Linked DNA regions of Homo sapiens. The protein of the gene in region 4 purifies or fractionates together with the protein of the main gene of each other region. This does not show direct contact. Each region holds a gene or a part of one and is shown on either strand. Other genes may lie near its edges.

Region 1 (3,500 bases), on a different chromosome or scaffold from region 4:
TATGTTGTATTTGTGATATAGAGACTCTAAGATTTATCCCCAAGACTTTTAAGAAATAGTTTAGAATAATTTTATATTGGGTGGGTAGAAGATGTAAGATAGGGTATGGGATTGGATCTCTTTTAAGTACTCTTGAACTACTATTTTTGTAGCACACATGTAAACCAACTGATTAAAAATTTTTTATACTGATTGTAGTTTTTCATTGAGTTAGAAGTGATATAACAAAACTTAATTTTATTTTTTTGAGATAGGGTCTTGCTCTGTCATCAGGCTGGAGTGCAGTGGCGTGATCATAGTCCACTGACCCCTCACCTGCTGGGTTCAAGCAATCCTCCTGAATAGCTGGAATGACAGGCATGTGCCACCATGCCCGCTGATTTTTAAATTTTTTGTAGAGACAGGGTCTCGCTCTGTTGCCCAGGCTGGTCTTGAACTCCTGGCCTCAAGTGATCCTCCTGCCTCAGCCTCCCAGAGTGCTGGGATTACAAGTGTGAGCCCTCGTGCCTGGCCCAAACTAATACTGTTAATGTGAACAATTCATTGGCATTTAGTACATTCAAAATGAAAGGCAACTACCACCTTTATCATCTAATTTAAAACATTGTCATCATCCCAAAAGGAAACTACTCATTAAGCAGTTGCTCCTCATTCCCCCTTCTGCCAGCCCTGACAGCAACCAATCCGCAGTCTGTTTCTATGGATTTAACTGTTCTGGATATTTTGTGTAAGTGGAATCATACAGTATGTGACCTCTGTTTAGCTTTTTAAATTTAGCATAACATTTTCGAGATTCATCCACATGGTATCTTGTATCAGTACTCCGTTCCTTTTTGTAGCCGAATACTCCATTTTATGTATATATGGTGATTTGTTTATGCATTCATCCATTGAAGGACAGTTGGGCTGTTTCTACCTTTTGGCTATTGTGAATAGTGCTGCTTACTATGAACATGGCATGTATATGTATTTGTTTGAGTAGCTGTTTCAATTCTTTTGGGTATCTGTATACCTAGGAATTGTGTTGCTCAGTCATTTAACTTTTTGGGAACTTGACAAACTGTTTTCCACAGTGATTGAACCATTTTAAATTTCCATCTTCAGTGTAGAAGGTTTTCCATTTCTCCACATCCTTATTGACACTTAGGTTCCATTTTTTAAAACATTATAGCTATCCTAGTATATATGAAGTGCTACTTCATTGTGGTTTTGATTTGCATTTCCTTAATGACTAGTGATGTTGAGTATCTTTTCATCTGCTTCTTGGCCATTTGTATATTTTGTTTGGATAAATGTCTGTTCAAGTCCTTTGCCCATTTTTAAGTTGGGTTGGTTGTCTTTATAGAGTTCTTTATATAGTTTGGGTAGTAGATCCTTATCAGGTATAATTTGTAACTTTTATTTTACAGGTTGTCTTTTTACTTTCTTGTTAATATACTTAGATGTATTAAACATTTTTAATTTTGGAGATACACTCATTTTTTTCTTTTGTTGCTTCTGCTTTTGGTGTCCTATCTAAGAATCCAGTGCTAAGTCTAAGTCATGAAGATTTATCCCTGTTTTCTTCTGAGAGTTTTCTGGCTTTAGCTTTTATATTTAGGCTGTTGATGCATTTTCAGTTAATATTTGTATATGGTCTAAGGTCCAGCTTCATTGTTTTGCCTGTGTACATCCAGTTGTCTTTTCCTTTGTCTTCTCTAGACTTTTGTTTACTTTTTCTAGGAATGCCTTCTGCTTCAACACCTTCTGTTCACATTCTATCCATTATTCAGACAAATTGCACTCCTACATATGGAGCTTTTGCTTATAGATAGGCACCTTCCTCTAATACCAGGGGCCAGGGTTTTCTATGTCTTAGAAACCCTAAGCATTTAAATATATGTTTTGCTCTTTTTTTCCAACAGTTATAAAAGGCCTTTTGGTTCTTCTAAAAAGTTTTAAGATAATTGAATTTTTCATGGCTAGACTAAGCATTTGTCTAGTCTCCTAGTCTTTTAGATTTGTCTAAAATTGTTATTCTAGCTTTGAAGAAACAGTCTTTTTATTTGCCTTTAAAGAATTTGTAATAACTCGAATGGTTTTTGGATGGTTCGTGTAAAAATACTGTAGGACAGGCTACATTGAGAGGCTTAAAAAGGAGATACAAATAAATTTCTTCTAATGAATGTCATCTTTGTTAGGTATCTGAACTTAGGACTGGAGCTGCAGAAGGACTAGCCAAGCTGATGTTCTCTGGGCTTTTGGTCAGCAGCAGGATTCTTTCTCGTCTTATTTTGTTATGGTACAATCCTGTGACTGAAGAGGATGTTCAACTTCGACATTGCCTAGGCGTGTTCTTCCCCGTGTTTGCTTATGCAAGCAGGTATTGAGTCATACTGATAAATCAAAAATCTGACTTGACATCAAATTCAAGTCCCCCATGAATTATATCTATAATGATATTTTGTTGTTGATACTTTTTCTGTCTTTAGTAGATAAATGATGAAATGACAAGAACGATACAGATTTTATCTATCTGAATTTTTGGCTCTTTCCTAGATGAAAATGCACTTAATGAGTGAATTTCCTACATAGTAGTTTTGAATTTCATACTTTTTCTCTCATCAAATAATGTTCTGCCAACATACTTTGAATTTGTTTCTCAATAGGACTAATCAGGAATGCTTTGAAGAAGCTTTTCTTCCAACCCTGCAAACACTGGCCAATGCCCCTGCATCTTCTCCTTTAGCTGAAATTGATATCACAAATGTTGCTGAGTTACTTGTAGATTTGACAAGACCAAGTGGATTAAATCCTCAGGCCAAGACTTCCCAAGATTATCAGGTGAGTGACTGTGGTAACTGCATGCAGATCACTGTTTTGGTAAAATAATCTCTCTCAAAGATCCCTTGAAATACTGAGGAACTGCATTTTGGTCTTTAGACTTCTGTCTCAAGCATATACCACAAAGCACGAAAGAAACATGACCTTGGGAAATGTGGAGAAATCATATGAAAACAGAAGTAATCAATGCTAACATTTTTGCTACTGAAAAGAAATTACTAAAAATCCACCACCCACACCATGCCCACCTAGTACTGACTGTTAATCTGAAGTAATAACCTATGTTATCTAGGACTCACAGAGTCTTCAAATGTTGGCTTACCTGCTATGCTTCTGGCACAAGAAAGGAGAATTCAAAGACTAGAACTCACCTCAAGCTTTTTTGGCTTTTAATTCAAAGAAGATAAATCAATTGCACACTGACTCACAGACTGAACTTAAGCTGGGTTGTTTTAATCCTTTAATGGCATTTGGTCAAACTTGTTACCATTTTTGAAATTTAATGTATTAGTGATTTCAGATGCTAACAGATTAAGTTGAAAGTATTACTCTATTTTATTTGATATTTAGTGATAAGCTACTCTGTTCAATTCATATGTTGTATATTATTGGAAAGATAAGATTACAAAGGATATTAGGCAAAATTAGGTAAGGGTCAGTAATAGAGCTATTAAGCA
Region 2 (4,187 bases), on a different chromosome or scaffold from region 4:
AAATAAGGAGGAGGGACTTATAAAAGCATTAGCATTTTGTGGGAAAGTAGAATCAGTAAACAACATATCTTCTGCTCTCATTGTAAAGGGTCTGTCTGCTCTGTCTTGATACATTACCCCTCTCTCCAACATCAACACTACAGCAATTAGTATGAACGCCATCAGATCTATATCCTTTTATCCTCAAATCTTTAAAACATTAAATATTTAAGTAATAGTAGTATTTTGCCTCATTAGACATCTTTGATCCATCACTGAAATGCCAATTTTTCCAAGAAAATCTTGTAATACTTCATGTATCCTTTCTCTATTAATTCCATATTTTCTATCTTCTCTCATTCTATTCCCTCCCACTACTGTCTCTCCTTTTCTCTCCTCCTCTTATATTCCTTGTCTGTGCCAGAAAAACCTGAGAACACTGCTTAAGCCTGCTAGATTCACTGACCCCAAGTTTAGAAATCCAATTCTAAAAATTTTATAATAGCCTATTATGTACACTTTCGTCCCAGTTCTAAATTCAGAGACTATCTTAGACAAAAGCTCAGTGATGAGATGACAAGGTGTTAGTCATTATTAACCTACTATAGTATCTAATAGTATAAAGTGAACAAAGCTTAAGATTCAGGTTCTGTAGAAGTATGTAGTTAAACGATTGGTTTTTTTTGGATTTCTTCCAGAATCACAGGAAGATGAAAAGGTTCTGAAGCATTTACAATTTTATAAGCTTTCTTCGGGGTAAAACTTATGTTTAAAACTTGCCATGCAGGATGTCTTGCAGCCCCACCACAAAGAAGATTCAGTGGAGCTGAACAAGCTCACTACCAAGCCACTGAAAAGAGGAAAGAAAGTCCATCTGAGATCAAAGGTCGCACTTCCCATTTTTTTCAAGTTCTGCAAAGGTGATCTGTTTCCCTTTAGTGCACAGGAAATAAGTGAGATGTTCTCTAAAAGCCTTTACCTGTTTCACCTTATACTGTAATCACTAAATCCAGAAGACTAACGCAAACTCATACTTAAAAAGAAAACAATTAGCCTAGAGCACGTAATAGAAATCAGAAGCATTTGATTTCAGACTGTCTGTATATCGCCTGTTTGTAAAAGTTCTGATTCGGTTGTAGGCTGTCATAACATAAACTACCTTTCAAGGTTCATTACATGCCACCCACAACTCTCTCCCTCACACAGCCAAAATGCACAACTTTCAGTTCCTGAAATCCTTTTGATTTTTTCGCCATCTCAAGCTTTCGCATATGCGATCTACCTGTTACATTTTTGTCTTCCTCAGAGTAACTTCAAATCATCTCCTCTAACATAGGACTACATAAAGTCCCCTTATTGTCTGCTCTCAGAACATCTGTATCTCTCATCACCACTCTCACTCACTCTTTGCTGTAATTAGTTTTTTAACCAGTTCTTCCCATTAGTCTTAGCTGCAAGAGGGCATTTGCAGTGCCTAAAGATAATATTCTTAAGACTAAACAGGGGCTTAAGAATCTGGCCACAAATCAACTCTCCAACTACCCTGTTTATAATCCTCACAACTCACCCTGTTTCAATGCCATGCTTCTTCACAGGCTGGCTTCCCTTCCTGGAATGTTAATCATTGCAGGAATCCCAGCTGATTATACAGTCGCCTTTCAGGCCAGAACCCAATAAAAAATCAAGAAAGGATCGCCCGTTCTATTACTGCGCTGCTCCCTCCCCTCGTAGATTTCACAAATATACTTCTCACCACAAGCTTGTCTGTTCCAAGAGAATGCTAGCTCTTCTAAAGAAGGAGCCCTTTGTTTTCCTTGCCCTTGTCCAGTTCCTCTGCATACCTCTAGCACCTAGAGCAACAACTGCTATACAGGAGCCCAGATGTGGAACAGAGCAAAGAACTGAGTGTTGATTTAATGTTGCCTGAAGTCCTTAACAGCACCTTCAACCTAAACTTAACTGTGTTTTTAATCCCCTACACGTGTAATCCCTGTATGTGTGCGCAGCGTTAAAAGGATTATTGTAGCTCAAAAATTCTCCAATGAAAGAACCTCTACCAGAAAGGAGTTGCTCATCTTTCGTTCTTGAAAAGTTGGCTGCACGATACAAGTAAGAAAAGTTTTAGTTAGGCAAGACAACTTATACATAAAAGACAATTATAGGGAACATTACCTAACTTAGCACAGGGCCTCGAATGTATTCCGAAATTAAATCAGCATGTAGAAAGCAAGCCTCCTCATGCTTTTTAAAGTGTAATCTCGCGACCTCGCGGCGCGCTCTGGGAAGACCGATTCATCTCTTCCCCTCGCCCTCTTTCCCCGGCCGGCGCACAGCCGGCCCGTGGCGCTCGGCACCGCGTCTCCACGTCCAGCGCGGGGCAGGCCTGCGCGGCGCTTGCAAGGGACAAGCCGCGGAGCCGGGGAGGCTCGCCGTCTGGGACACGTTTGGAGAAGCGAGCGGTACAGTCCATTCCACGGCGACATTTTAGGATTCTCCCACTGACAACACTAAACTGAAGCGCTAAGACCAACCCTTACGACCACTTACCGTCGCAGGCCACGGTGGTGACTTCCTTTTCCGCTCCCCTACACACGCTTTTCCGTTTTGCGTGCCTTTGTTTCCGCTCCCCCCGGGACCATCGTGCGCCCCTGTCCTCCGTTCTTGTAGGTCCTCTCCTCTTCTCCGCGTCTTCTCTTTTACTATCCCACGCTCTCCTTTCCTTTCTCCGGGAACTTTATCCCGTTCCCCTGCCGGTTCCCGTGACCCCGGAAATCCCGCTCCTGCCGCGAGGCGCCCTCCGCTTCGCGCTCCCTCGTGTCACGAGGGAGCCAGGGTGGGCGGTCTCCTATTGTACTTGGCTTTTGAATTTTCGCTTTTGCAGCACAAAGGTAGGGCTGGGAAAGGAGGCTGCCGAACCGTGCTTGTTTTCGCTCAGATAAACGTGAGAAAAAGTGGAGGTGAGGAAGCCAGTGTAGGCAAATAGCGAGAGGGGAGAAGACAGAAAGGTACCGAAGGTCGACCTTTTTTAGGTATCTTATCCAAGTTATTGAGGGGAATGGGTATTTAGCCAGTTTTTTGTTTGTTTGTTTTTATCCGAATATCCAGTGTGTGTCTTGAATGTGTGAATGTGACGTGTTTATAAAGCTCAGTAAGCTTAAAATTCCGTGCCAATACATTTTGTATGCCGCAGACAGGAAGTGCTTTGGAAGACCCTTGAAAGGGGAGGTGATTTTACACCAATATTGAGATCATTTTGTCAGAGTCGTGGGACTAAAGGTAGACCTTAGGTAGTCGATGTCAAAGATAAGCGCAGCTGGACGTTAAAGCGGTGAAAACATTCAGTTAACTACTGACAGGAAAGAGCTGAGCTCTATTTCGATTCGTGCAGAGATCATCTGGGCATTTTTAAAGGGACGTTTTAAAAGGAGAAAGGGGATATGCGGGCGCTCAGTAGAGAAAGTGAACCTACAGAGTTGTTAGTGTAAATGTGATTAGGCCAGCTGTGTGTTTGTGTGTGCGCGCGTTTTAACAGTTACCGCAGGATTCTATCCTCCTACGGAGGATTTTATCCTTCTCGATTACATTTCAAAGGAATGACTCTCTGGTCCTTGAGAGAGAACTTCTGAGTGGCAAGAAATAAGTCTTTACAATTGCAAGCCCTTTAGTAAACGTTCTAAGAAAGGGATGTCAGAGACCTATCATCAGTTGTGTGCTGGTTACATCACGTAGTTAAGCTTTCTGAGGCAGTCGCCCTGGGCACAGGGCCTTATGCTGCTAAAGCTTGCTAGAGTTTGGTCAAGTCTCTGAACGCAGGGGTTTAGATGGGATGGTCATGTTCCTGGAGTTCTGCAGTGGTCATAGGTATGATTTGAATAAGTACAGGGAATATTCTAGTCGGAGGAACAGAATGTGCCAACGCGCCGAACAGGGAGGATAGTTTTACGATACGGAGATGTGTATGATAGGGAATAAGTGGGAGCCCAGTTTGGACTAATTGGAAGAAGTCATTATTAGAAGTACTGTATTTAATTCTAGTTTGTTATAAAATGAGACTCCAAGATCACTGAGCCATTTCACTGAGACTCCAAGATCACCCCAATGCTAGGCTAATCTCCATGGCGCCTAGATCTATGCCCACTCCATTCCCCATGTTGGTCCCCATAGTTTCAGGCACCAGGCTCCAACACCAGGTTGGGCCCTACAGCCCC
Region 3 (3,500 bases), on a different chromosome or scaffold from region 4:
TTGGTGCTGTCCTCGTGATAGTGAGTTCTTATGAGATCTGGTCGTTTAAAAGTGTGTGGCACCTCCCTGATCTCTCTTGCTCTTGCTCTGGACATGTGACATGCCAGCTCCCCCTTCGCCTTCCACCATGATTGTAAGTTTCCTAAGGCCTCCCTAGAAACTTGACAAATGCCAGTATCATGTTTCCTGTACAGCCTGAAGAACGATGAACCAATTAAACTGCTTTTCTTTATAAATTACCTAGTCGTAGGTATTTCTTTTTAGCAATGCGAGACTGGCCTAACACACCTTCCATTCGTGCTCGGACAGAGACTAAATGTGAGGTGAGAGCTTAGAGACCTCTCAGGTTTTTCCTGGAAAATGTGTCCAACCTTACACATATTACATTCTAGAAATATGTCAGAGCTTTCCAGATGTCAGGATGGACATCTCATTCCCCAGCTTCTTGTTTGACCCAGCTGTTACCCACTCCATGTTATGTCAAACAAGTGCTGCTGATTATTTTCAACAAATGCACCAGGGAAAACACTGTTTGCAGTGAATAAACTCCAAGTCAGGTGAAAAAAGATAAGCCCTGTGAGTGGGGTTTCCAGCGAACTGTCAGACAAGTCAAATAGTAACAATTCTCTGCAGCTGGAAGTTTTGGAAAACTCTTAAACCCATTCTGCCTTCTTCAGTGCCTGCAAGGCTGCTGGTTTTCAAAGTAACTGTGATTTGTGAGGCTGTTGGTTTTCAAGACTATTGTGAAGCTGAAAGAAGACAGGAATAAAGCAAGTTAAAACTCCACAAAACTTGCTGTCCTACCACGATTTCAGGCTTTTTTTTTTGGATAAATGCTCCTCAGATTGTCACAAATGCCTGGTAATTTTCCAGAGTTCTGGAAAAGTTGCTTCTGCCAACTTCTGGCAGTGTTATCATTGCTTTTGGGTAAAAATGGATTTTCAGAGGTCCTTACTCTTGACACACCAGAAGTTGGAATCTCTATTTGTGGTTACCTGGCACACAGTCTTTTTCATAAAAGGCCTCATTTATTTTGTTTTCTAGGGCTATAAATGCCAGAAAGCTTTGCCTGGATCTGGCAAACACAACATCAGTGCCACCTAGTGGAAAGGAGATAAATTAACTGCTTTTAGCTTGTTTCCTCATTTAAAATGTGGATAATGCAGTGTTTCTTGTACCAAAGTTGATTTGAGGGTTAAATGGAAAAGCAAATATGGGAGCATCTGGTAAGATGCTTGAAACACAGCAGGCTCTCTAACTGTTAAGTTTATTTTTTTTTTGAAATATTATGTAAAACATTAACTTTGATAAAACTTCTAGAACACTTTTCAATTTTACCCCTAATGTGGTCAGGATTTCTGACAAAGTTAATTATGCAGTTATGAGGCCATGGGAAAAGTCTATGAAACTCTTCAATAGATTTTCATAGCACTCAGGATTAAGACACAATTATTAAATCCTGTGATCTTCAAATTTTAGTGTTTTAGTGTTTGGTGTGAATCAGAGGAATGCCTTGTTAAAACACAAATCATGAGGCTGTCTACCTCCAGTTTCTGCATCCACAGTTCTGGAATGGAGGCTGGGAATTCGCATTTCTAACAAGTTCCTAGGTGATGCTGCTATGCTGGTTCTGGACTATACTTTGAGAACCTAGGCTTTTCTCTCCCCTAAGATGTGGTTAAATATACATAACATAAAATTTACCATTTTAATTATTTTAAGTGTACAATTCAGTGGCATTAAGTACATTTACACTGCTGTGCAACTATTACTACTATCCATCTCCAGGACTTTTTCATCTCCCCAGAGAACCACTGGTTTAATGTGACCTACAAGGCCCCATCTCACACAATGCTATCCCATTCCTCCTTTGGCAGGCACTTACAAAAGGAACAAGGTTAACCGGCAGCAAGCTAGAAGGACTCTGCTCTTTAAACAGAAAAAGAATCAATAATTATTTCCTAAGACAGCTGTCCTTTCCCATTCCTCCTAATTATAGAACAAAGGCAGTTTAGGAGAACAGAAGACAAACTGCCTCTCAGCTAGCTCAGTTTGAGAAATAATAAAGCAAAAAATGCTAACATGTATACCTACTATCAGTGACATCGATGTATGTTGGAGTAATTCATTCAACAAAGTACTTCCTATGTGCCAGGCATTGTTTTAGGCAATATATAAAAAAGATAAAAATCTGTGCCAATAGAACTTGCATTCTACTGGGGAGAAAGTTATACATATGTTAGATACTAAGTGCCAGAGAGAAAAAAATAAACAATGGGGACATGAAGTATGTGTTTGGAATGGGCTGTGTATGAAATTTTACATAGAGTAGTTAGGAAGTCCTCTGTGAGAATGTCACTCTTGAAGGGAAGCAAGGGCTAGCTATGCAGCTATCTGGTGGAAGAATATTCCAAACAGAAAGAATTATAAATGCAAAGACCCTAAAAGATTCTAGAGCCCATAAAGAGAAGGCCAGTATGGCCAGAACAGAATGAATAATGGGAAGACAAGTAGAATTTGATGTGAGAGAGGTACTGAGGTAGTTATGGAGGGTAAGGACTTGGAGACATGAGAGGTTCACCTAGATCAGACTGTATCTCCCAACTTTTTCTTACTACAACTTCATATTGTATGCTAATAACTTTTACCTCCCTACAGTATAAATGCTGATTAAAACATACACACATATTATCTTATTATAGATATTAGAATAATAGACTAATGTAAATATATTTTTTTAAAGATGAGGTCTTGCTTTAAAAATATTTTTAAAAATGTTATCACTACATAGTGAAACCCCACCTCTACAAAAAATACAAAAACTAGCTGGGCGCAGTGGCATGTGCCTGTGGTCCCAGCTACTCAGGAGGCTGAGGCAGAAGGGTGGCTTGAGCCCTGGAGGCAGAGGTTGCAGAGAGCTGAGATCATGCCACTGCACTTCAGCCTGGGCGATAATGCCAGACCTTCTCTCAAAAATAAAATAAAATAAAATTTTAAATTTTAAAAAGTTATCGCTAAAAAATGTCTGAAGTATTTGATGTGGTCTTGGTTTTTATTTTGCAATTATAACAACATGAAAGCATAAACAAACTTTAATATCATTACTAAGACCTTCGTTTTCTCTCAAAGAGACAGAATATATTGACCAGACGTCCAAGCCAGAAATTTTCCATCCTCTGGTGGATCACGATTAAAAACATACAAACCAAAAGAAAAACAGCCCTTTAACCCTCTAGCTGGACTTAACAGCTTGTCCCTGGCTGACCAATTCTGTGTCTCCAGGGCCCTAGCAGGAAGTTAAGATGAAGCCTCACAGCTGTCTCTAAGGCTCTGGGTGGCAAACGGCTAATCTTAAGAGTAAAGGTTCTTAACTTTTTTATCTATCGAAATCACCTGGGGGACCCTGTGAAACAGATTACTGGACCCAACTGATACAGTCAGTATGGACAGAACCTGAGAATGTGCACTTCTAACAATTGCCCAGGTAATGGTGAAACTTC
Region 4 (3,500 bases):
AGCATTGGTTTGAAATAGCAAACATTTAAAAATCACACAATTAGTATATATAATTGATTCTAATTTGCTGGTGTTTTGTGAATTTGTTTTTATGTTTCTAGCCTCCTTTAAAATTTGTATTAGAACATTCTATTGCCTTACAGTGTGTTGGTTTGGTACAAAGGAGTGACATTTAATACTAGTATGAGTTGATGTAAGGGGTGAAAACATGGATAAAAACACAAAAATTTATTTGTACTTTAAAGGCTAGTTATTAACAGCTGTAATATTTTAAGTTGAGTCTAATGGAATTGTAATAGTACAAGTTCTAATGAAAGAACAAAATGTTCTTTATCCCTTTAGAAAAGAAGATTCCTTAGATGTATTTAGGAAAAGAGGAAAAGAAAGCTGTACTTTCAAGTCCTATAAGTACAGTTTTCAACTAGAAGATTAAAACCCATCCCAAGCGTACAAGAAGACATCAGGCATGAAGCAGTATAGAATTGTCTGGCTTTTTGCTTTTTTCCCCCAGACTGGGTCATGTATCTTAAACGCAAATAGAAAAGAGGATCTGGATTTCACAAACATGACTTCATTTTTAAGAAGTTTCTAGCTGGGCATGGTGGCTCATGCCTGTAGTCCCAGCACTTTGGAAGGCCAAGGCCAGCGGATCGCTTGAGCCTAGGAGTTTGAGACCAGCCTGAGCAACACTGTGAAAACCTGTCTATAAAAAATACAAAAAAATTAGCCAGGTGTCATGGCATGTGCCTATAGACCCAGCTACTTGGGAGGCTGAGGTGGGAGGATCGCTTGAGCCTGGGAGGTGGAGGTTGCAATGAACCCAGATCGTGCCACTGCACTCCAGCCTGGGTGACAGAGTGAGACCCTGTCTCAAAAAAAAAAAAAAAAAAAGGTTCCTGTGACACATTTAAGGTGTGGTTTTATTTGTGCATAGCTTTACAAGATTCCCCTCTTTATGTAAAGTGTGTAGTGTTTCACTTGAATTTGTAGCTCTCCAATTTGTGTAGAAAAACGTAGTGGTTGTGTATTAACAGAAAATGCTTCTGAGAAGTTTATATCTAGTAAGGTCTTTACCCTAGTTGTAGTTGGAAGAGTGTAGAACAGAGTTTTTCTTTCTGAGTGTTCTTTTTAACTTCAGTGTTAGTGCTAGTAGTAACCTTATATGTCATCTCTCCAGAGGTCTTCATCAAGGATTCACATGGCAGTCCTGATCTGAAGGGCATATTTAAAATGTACTTGTCCAGATTTCACTGCTAAAGATTATGATTCAGTAGGTCTAGGATGGGCTTCAGCCGTTTGGGTTGATTGTGATAGCATACATGTCTTTAGTTGAGGACTGCTGGTATTACCTGCAATTTTGAGATAGAGAAAAGTGCAGGAAAATCTTCCTCCAGGATCACTAAAGCTGAGCCCTAGCTTGTTACCTGTGGAGGCATTGAGACATTTGTTCACAGAAAGTACAGTTTGGATTTTTGGTTTTTTTTAGAAGAAAGCTCATTATTTAGAAATTTTGCAATGTTACTTTTCTACTAATAACACAATCATCTTCACTTATATTTTTAGGCTCATGCTGAAGATTCGGTTATGGACCATCATTTCCGGAAGCCAGCAAATGATATAACGTCTCAGCTGGAGATCAATTTTGGAGACCTTGGCCGCCCAGGACGTGGCGGCAGGGGAGGACGAGGTGGACGTGGGCGTGGTGGGCGCCCAAACCGTGGCAGCAGGACCGACAAGGTAATTTAAGACTTTCTTTTCCTTTTACATAATTTAAGGACCTCTTATAAGTCACTGGCTGGGTCAGACTTATGTCACTTTTGGGAACATAAGTAGAAGTAGTAGCAGTGTCTTTAAGAAACCGCATGTTAGGTTATATTTATGTTTAAAGCACTTAAATGCCTTTTTGTGTAGTGCTGTTAGTAGTGTTAAGTTACCACCCTTTTGAGTTCTTTCTAGGTGCCGGTCATGGTGCTGGGCTAGGCATTTTATGTACTTAATGTCATTTAATTCTTGTTACTGTGATGACATTCTCATTTTCCAGATGAGAAAATTCTGGTATAGTGAATCAGGTTAACTCTTGGCCTTTGCTAAGGCTTACCTGAAAACCAGTCTGTTCACTTTGATAATTCCTAACTGCTTTTTAGGTCTCCACTTAATAACCATTGTGTTCCTTGTATAATTCCTCTTACGACACTTAGGATTGTTGACACTTTTTTCTTTTACTAGACTCTTCTGTGAGAGCTGGGATTCATTTTTGGCTTACTTTCTATAATCTCTCCAATGCCTTGAACAGTATGTGGCACAAAACAAGTTCTTAGAGAAATATTTTGGTGAATTCCCAAGTAATTGATAGATTTGAACTCAGATCTGATGCTTGGAAACAACCATAATGTCCTCCTAAATTCTCAACACCTTACACACAAATTTGGGGACCCACCTACTTGATTGAGTCTGTTTTTGATGATTACAGGGGTAACTTACCATTGCCAGTGTAATGATACTTTGTTCCTCCCTCTAAGACCAACCTTTTTTTTTTAAGGTGGTGGTTGTGTTGATGGGCTTTTCCCATACTTTCTTTTTTAGTTCTGTTATTTATACTTTAGGCTATAAAGAGCAGTTTGGATTCCTTTTTTCAGACTTTCAACCTTGATGATTATTGCTACTTAGATATTAGTTCCTTAGCATGCTTTCACATTGGTGCCATTCTTATTTAGCAAGTGGAAAAAGTATAAGAATACTGAACAATGCGAATTCACATACATAATTGCTTATGAATCTACTTGTATGGTTTATTGGAAAAAGTAAAACAACTGGGCTGGGCGCACTGCCTCACGCCTGTAATCCCAGTACTTTGGGAGGTCTGGGTGAACAGATCACCTGAGGTTGGGAATTTGAGACCAGCCTGGCCAACGTTGTGAAACCCTGTCTCATTAGCCAGGTGTGGTGGCACATCCCTGTAACCTAGCTACTTGGGAGGCTGAGGCACAAGAATCACCTGAACCCAGGAGGTGGAGGTTGCAGTGAACTGAGATTATGTTACTGCACTCCATCCTGAGCAACAGAGTAAGACTGTCTCCAAAAAAAAAGAGAAAAAGAAAACAACCCATATTATTACTCTGGAATGAAAATAGGCCTTGGTAGAAATTTAGGACAGGGCTCATTGCAAATACTTGTAGTTTTTTTGTGATCCATAATTTTGTCTTGATACATTTTACCTAGAATTTTAACAGTAGGATTTTTTTTTTTTTTTTTTTGAGATGGAGTCTCACTCTGTTTCCCAGGCTGGAGTGCAGTGGCACAGTCTCGGCTCACTGCAACCCTTGCCTCCCAGGTTCAAGCGATTCTCCTGCCTCAGCCTCTTGAGTAGTGGGATCACAGGTGCCTGCCACCACACCCAGCTAATTGTTTATATTTTTAGTACAGACAGGATTTCACCATGTTGGCCAGGCTGGTCTCAAACTCCTGACCTCAGGTGATCCACCCACCTTGGCCTCCCAAAG

The links.
Region 1: the proteins of SERBP1 (region 4) and NCAPG purify together in Homo sapiens (affinity purification with mass spectrometry; 2 studies listed by BioGRID and IntAct, with this or other methods). This does not show direct contact.
Region 2: the proteins of SERBP1 (region 4) and ECHDC1 purify together in Homo sapiens (affinity purification with mass spectrometry; 2 studies listed by BioGRID and IntAct, with this or other methods). This does not show direct contact.
Region 3: the proteins of SERBP1 (region 4) and FAM162A purify together in Homo sapiens (affinity purification with mass spectrometry; 2 studies listed by BioGRID and IntAct, with this or other methods). This does not show direct contact.

What each region holds. Positions count from the first base shown.
Region 1 is NC_000004.12:17,834,979-17,838,478, forward strand, and holds part of NCAPG (condensin complex subunit 3), read left to right. Parts: intron 1-2,180; coding exon 2,181-2,362; intron 2,363-2,648; coding exon 2,649-2,823; intron 2,824-3,500. UniProt on the Homo sapiens protein: Regulatory subunit of the condensin complex, a complex required for conversion of interphase chromatin into mitotic-like condense chromosomes.
Region 2 is NC_000006.12:127,340,810-127,344,996, forward strand, and holds the start of ECHDC1 (ethylmalonyl-CoA decarboxylase), read right to left. Parts: upstream 2,801-4,187; 5' UTR 2,527-2,800; intron 1,599-2,526; exon of another isoform or gene 1,563-1,598; coding exon of another isoform or gene 1,547-1,562; intron 851-1,546; exon of another isoform or gene 678-850; intron 1-677. UniProt on the Homo sapiens protein: Decarboxylates ethylmalonyl-CoA, a potentially toxic metabolite, to form butyryl-CoA, suggesting it might be involved in metabolite proofreading. Acts preferentially on (S)-ethylmalonyl-CoA but also has some activity on the (R)-isomer.
Region 3 is NC_000003.12:122,390,682-122,394,181, reverse strand, and holds part of FAM162A (protein FAM162A), read right to left. Parts: intron 1-3,500. UniProt on the Homo sapiens protein: Proposed to be involved in regulation of apoptosis; the exact mechanism may differ between cell types/tissues.
Region 4 is NC_000001.11:67,413,403-67,416,902, reverse strand, and holds part of SERBP1 (SERPINE1 mRNA-binding protein 1), read left to right. Parts: intron 1-1,563; coding exon 1,564-1,737; intron 1,738-3,500. UniProt on the Homo sapiens protein: Ribosome-binding protein that promotes ribosome hibernation, a process during which ribosomes are stabilized in an inactive state and preserved from proteasomal degradation.